Linked DNA regions of Homo sapiens: region 2 is linked to region 1. The links come from fine-mapping of genetic effects on gene expression. Tissue or cell type: thyroid. Region 1 holds a variant in brackets; the other region holds the start of a gene. All regions are shown on one strand. Distances are from middle to middle.

Region 1 (2,690 bases):
TTTATTTATAAAGAATATCATTAAAATACTCTCAAATAATAGATTCATAATGTAATTTATTTTACTATTATTCAAATATTTCTTATTTGCTTAAAGTACCTATGTCCCTATGGGGAAACAAACATGAATTCCACTTGTAGCCTGTATCAGACTAAATATGCTATCAGTGAATCTGATCAATGCAAATTCCCTACATGTGACATCAGCATCAAGATTTGATGCTATAGGATTTGTACAAAAAGATACTCTTTTGGATTCAAAACAATGTTTTCAATTAGTTTGAAGTGTGGTCCCAAGCTATGTCTGCTTCTGTATTCAGATCCATTAGTGATATTCATGTGTCTTCGTGTTCTGGAAACTCCACTTGTGAGTGGTTCTATCATTGCAGACTAGGAAGAGGTTTTTCTTCCTCCCAGTATGTATTGTGAAACGTAATTAATGAGTGTAAAGCAATTGGTGAGTGCCAGATGAAAGGCACCATAGTGGGTAAGTACCAAAAAAAATTATACAAGCACTGCACAGTGTGTCATCTCAGCTGGGTTTGCTGATGAAATTGCAGGTAATTATCTCTCATTGTGGAGTTCCTCTGGAGAAAGGAGGTCTAAAGTGGGATTGGTCTTACCTAGAACCTAGGACTGTATCTCAGTGAAACTTGTTTGTTTGGCTAGAAATTACTTTTTAACTCCAACTCCATGAGTAAACAAAGGTTTCTGATAACAACTAAGTGAGCTAAGTAACAACTGAGGCATTAAATTTACGTACAGTTTACATTTTATAAGTTTATTTCCAGATGTGCTCAAGACAGTGAGGGTAGGTAAGGTTTATCTCTAGGGTGAGGTCTAATCAATTGATTATGATTGTAAGGAGGGCAATGATGAATAGGATTCTGGGCCCACAGAAAGGGTCTTCAGGAAAAAGCAACATGAGAAATTAGCGGGACTTTTATGGCAGTGAAAACGGAGAGCTATAGCAAAAGTGCATTGCAATGTTTATGCCTGGTATAAGCCATAATTACTATGGTTAAGGCAGAAGGGGATAATGATATTCCCACACATATTGCAGAAAAGGCCTAGGGAAAAGGTGCACCCAGTCCTGCCCAATCATGTTCAGTTCTCTAACTACAAACAGAAAATATATTTAGTTGGATTTTTACCTAAAAAGTGGCTAATCTGAAAATAAGCCATTGAATTCTATTAAGCCACTGTTCAGTAACTAACTGTTTGATTAAATTTAACCTGCTTTTCTTCGTACCACAGTAGAGACAGCTTAAATATCTTTTGAGACAATATTTTTTCGGGGTTGGTTTAATTTCTAATCAAACTCTGAAGGGGCCTTTGGGCTTCAGAAAATTTAAAACTATAGAATTACCTTGTTCTTTCCTCGGGCCAATTAACTGGGCAGATTCTT[T/C]GCATTCCATTTGAAGCTTACTAGCTCCTGCATTTTAGCTAAAGTTTCGTTTCTCGCTCAGCAGTTGAAAACCTATCTCCTTGTGCAGCAGAAACCAAGTATGAACCTCAGGCATATTGAGCTGAACGGCCCTTGGCGCCATCCCCAAACGCTGATGTGCGGAAGATCCCAGTTTCACTCTTCTCCCTTTCATAAGCTCTGAAAGGAAGTGTAGGAAGTATGCCAAGTTGTTATTCAACTCTAGTATTTAATCAAGCATTACCTGGGCACTTCTGAAATTCTCCAGCTTCTAAAGTGAGAGTAAACCAGAGAGAACACAGGGTGGAAACTACTTAATCGAGAAGGCTCCTAGGATAAGTGAGGATCACATGGCCATTCTCAGGCCCCAGTTCCTCTCCAAACTCCTGAAAGTCAGCAAGAAACCGAATCTCAGTCATGATGATTATTTTTCATGTAACACCTCACAGCGTTCTCAGGGATCCCAATATATGCTACTAATTCACTTTGTGTTAAGTAGGAGTTTCTTAAAAAAACAATTTCAGTGGACCTCAGAATAGACGCCTCACTACTGACCCCACTACATTTTCTCTACTTAGGCTTTAAGTACACAAATAGGGCAATCTACTAGAGTACAGAAAAATTGTTTATGATTTCAGAGAATGTGCGGCTGGCATAGAGCAACAAGTGCAGGGCATGACTTGTTTGGATTCCTCACCTGCAAGGAGCAGGGGGCCCAGCACATGTCAGAAATTCCTGCTATACCAGATGACTTTGCCAAAATCTTTGTCCTTTTTTTCACTTAGGGTGAAAAAAAAAATTGATGACCCGTGTTTTGCTACCACTGACGAGAGTAATACCTTGTCCCAAAGCTAAAACGATCAACCTATGAAAACTGGAGGGTTGGGCTTTTGTTGTTGTTGTTAAAGGCCTGAATGAGGTGATATCTTAATGCTTACAGCTGAGAAGCAGGTCAGTCAGGTTCCTGGGCGCTCTGTTACACAAGCAAGATACAGCCAGCCCCACCTAATTTTGTTTCCCTGGCACCCTCCTGCTCAGTGCGACATTGTCACACTTAACCCATCTGTTTTCTCTAATGCACGACAGATTCCTTTCAGACAGGACAACTGTGATATTTCAGTTCCTGATTGTAAATACCTCCTAAGCCTGAAGGTAAGTGTGCGTTGGGTCACTTAGGTCTCTCGCTTTCTCTCTTTCACTCTCTACTCTCTCTCTTCCTTGATTATTTACCAAAGAGAATCGCAGTGGTCTCAACTTTGACAGAA
Region 2 (2,690 bases), 240 kb after region 1:
GCCTGTAGTCCCAGCTACTCAGGAGGCTGAGGCAGGATAATGGCATGAACCTGGGATGCAGAGCTTGCAGTGAGCCGAGATCGCGCCACTGCACTCCAGCCTGGGCAACAGAGCGAGACTCCACCTCAAAAAAAAAAAAAAAGTCAAAGAGCTACATAAAAACAACTGTTGATGAAAGAAATACAAATAATATCTGGAGGGTGGGGATGAGAATATTTAAGTAAATATTTACTTTGAATGAACAAATTCAGCATTCCAGAATTCACACATCTAAGGCACTCTATGGTTAACTGTATCATAATTACCATTATTAATTCAGCAAAGTGGCAATTGTGTTAATTAATGCTTCTGGATAATAAAACTCCAAAAACTGTGAATGTGCCTCAAAATAAAAATGCTCTGTAAAAAGCCTTTTAAACCAAATAAGAAACAAAGATCAAAGAGTGAGGATAACTTGAACATACAGATTCTTGTCACTATGCCCAGCAAGAAACTTGAGGGAGAAACTAAAAGACATAATACGAAGCCCCTAGAAGAGAAACCTAACCTCAAGAACTTGAAACCCAGAATCAAGCATGGGACATGGGCAAACAATAAATTTTCCCAAGGAAGTGACAGAGCCCCTTTAACTGCAACAGGCCAACTCTGGAACTCCCCCAAGAATTCATTTATCTTATGATTGTGTAAATGCGTCTCAAGGAGTAGACACACTTTTGTGAAGATTACTCAACATTTGAACCACAGAAGACGGCAGATATTGTTGAACATTTCTGTCCTCACCCCTCAGAGCTCTACTGAGCTATTCGGACAATCCCTACTAAGCGGGTTTACTGCAGTGCATTGAAACAGTCTTCACAGAGATATACATTAAGTCAAGTCCTGAAATGACGAATTCCGATACTCCCAGGCACTGTGCGGAGGCTCAGAAAATCACTCATCTAGGATGCAGAGTGAAGAGGAATTTAATTTTTTTTTTTTTTTTAACTTCACAGAGTTCCCCACCTCTGTGTCGCATAAGCCTGCAAAGGATGCTCCTACACAACTGCAAGGGCATGCAGGGGGGAAGTGACGCCCGCAGGGAGAGGGGAGCAAGATTCCAACTGACCTTTTTGCTGTTTAAAGGACTGAATGGAGCCTGAATGGTGGACCATTTTCACTCTGCGCGTCCCAGCCGGCTTAGGGAGCTGCCCGAGAGGGAGGCGGAGGAACAGTAGCCAGACTCTAGACGCTCCAAGGTCCGGAGCCTCAGCGAGCGCACTGCAATCCGACACCTGCTGTAGCCGGCACTTCGCTCTCCAGGCTACGCGCCCGCCGGTGTCGTTGTCATGGGAACGCGGGAGGGCGGTCTAGCGTCCGGCTCCCCTTAGCGGCTACTCTGGGAACAACCCCGCATCCCCCGCGCGTCCAGTGCCACAGTGAGGGGTGGGCGTTGAGCGGGGTTGGCTGGGAGTGGGAGCAGAAGACTTTACTGGAGGAGGAGATATAAATCGGAGCAAACCTCTAGAGCTGATACTGATGCCCTCTTTGCCAAGCTTTGAGGCTGGTTATTTATTTCCTAAAAGTTGGTAGGTAAACCCTGGGACTTTTAAGGAAGGGCAAAGTTGGTCTGTGCTCTGAGAGGGTATGCAGTGGCAGATGCAGAGACGTTTCTGTTTTTCTTTCTTAAATTTAAGTAGAGGGGGCAGAAAGCCACCCCAGCTTAGTTAGCCAGTAGCATGTTTTATTAGGTAAGCTGTGTTCTATGTCTAGCACTTTTCACTTGAGTTTTCCTCTTCTTCTTCTGCCATTCAGGCCTTGAATCATTTATGATGATGATGACTGAGGACCATTTATAACCTACTTAGTCACAGGGGCTGAAAAAACACTACCCACGATGCTCGATTTAATCTTCATAAAAGCCCTGTAATGTAGGTAAACTATGATTCTAATATTATAAAAAGAAACTTAAGATCAGAGCAACAAAGATTTCTCAAGACCACATAAATCAACACCTTATTTGAAAGAGAAGGCACCCGATACCCAAAGAAGTGAAGTAACTCTTTTTGTTTAGTTTGAGAAGTTTTATTTTATTATTTATTTATATCTTCACCATGTATTTTAAGTTCGTGGTACATGTGCAGGATGCGCAGGTTTGTTACATAGGTAAACGTATGCCATGGTGGTTTGCTGCACAGATCACCCCATCACCCGGGTATTGAGCCCAGCAGCCATTAGCTATTGTTCCTAATGCTCTCCCTCCCCCTCCAACAGGCCCCAGTGTGTGTTGTTCCCCCATTGTGTCCGTGTGTTCTCATCATTCAGCTCCCACTTTGAAGTAACTTTTGAAAGACCAAACTGCAGTGGCCAAAATAGGACCAGAAGCTAGCTGAACACATTTTTCAGTAGGATCTCCTTTCCTCCATCTATCTCTGCTCCCTGATTCAAAGCCCTAAGTTCTTCCTGGAAGATGTAAGATGTTATTGAACAGACACATCGTGAGAGTCCGTTGCTTCCTCAGTTTTGAAGTTTTATGGAATCAACTCAGAATCAGGTGAATAATCCAAATAAAAGCAGATAAAAAATATGCAGAAATTTCCAAACTTTCGATACCTCAAAAATATTGAGTTATTATTGTATGCTGTTTGATTCATCTGTGGTGCATGATACAAAAGAATGAGGGGAATATAGCTTTGAACAAACAGATGCTCCAA

Which allele goes with the higher level. Alleles are on the strand shown, and positions count from the first base shown. SD is a standard deviation of normalised expression in the study named.
In carriers of allele C in region 1, the expression in thyroid of the gene that starts at base 1,297 in region 2 tends to be higher than with T alone (large effect, 1.9 SD a copy in GTEx).

Evidence for each region. PIP is the estimated chance that this variant, and not a neighbour inherited with it, causes the effect.
Region 2: ANO3 starts here. The variant in region 1 is fine-mapped to the expression of ANO3 in thyroid (GTEx, PIP above 0.99). The same link has a PIP of 0.9 or more in nasal epithelium.

The regions. Positions count from the first base shown.
Region 1 is chr11:26,571,928-26,574,617 of GRCh38, reverse strand. The region is part of intron 14 of ANO3 (anoctamin 3); the gene reads right to left. It overlaps MUC15 (mucin 15, cell surface associated), which reads left to right and starts at 2,355. Exons shown (of 5, transcript NM_001135091.2): 1 at 2,355-2,577. The variant T/C (reference allele first, on the strand shown) is at 1,408.
Region 2 is chr11:26,330,737-26,333,426 of GRCh38, reverse strand. ANO3 (anoctamin 3) reads right to left here and starts at 1,297. Exons shown (of 27, transcript NM_031418.4): 1 at 1,106-1,297. The coding sequence starts at 1,151. LOC105376598 (a long non-coding RNA gene) reads left to right here and starts at 1,453. Exons shown (of 3, transcript XR_931138.3): 1 at 1,453-1,565; 2 at 1,792-1,907.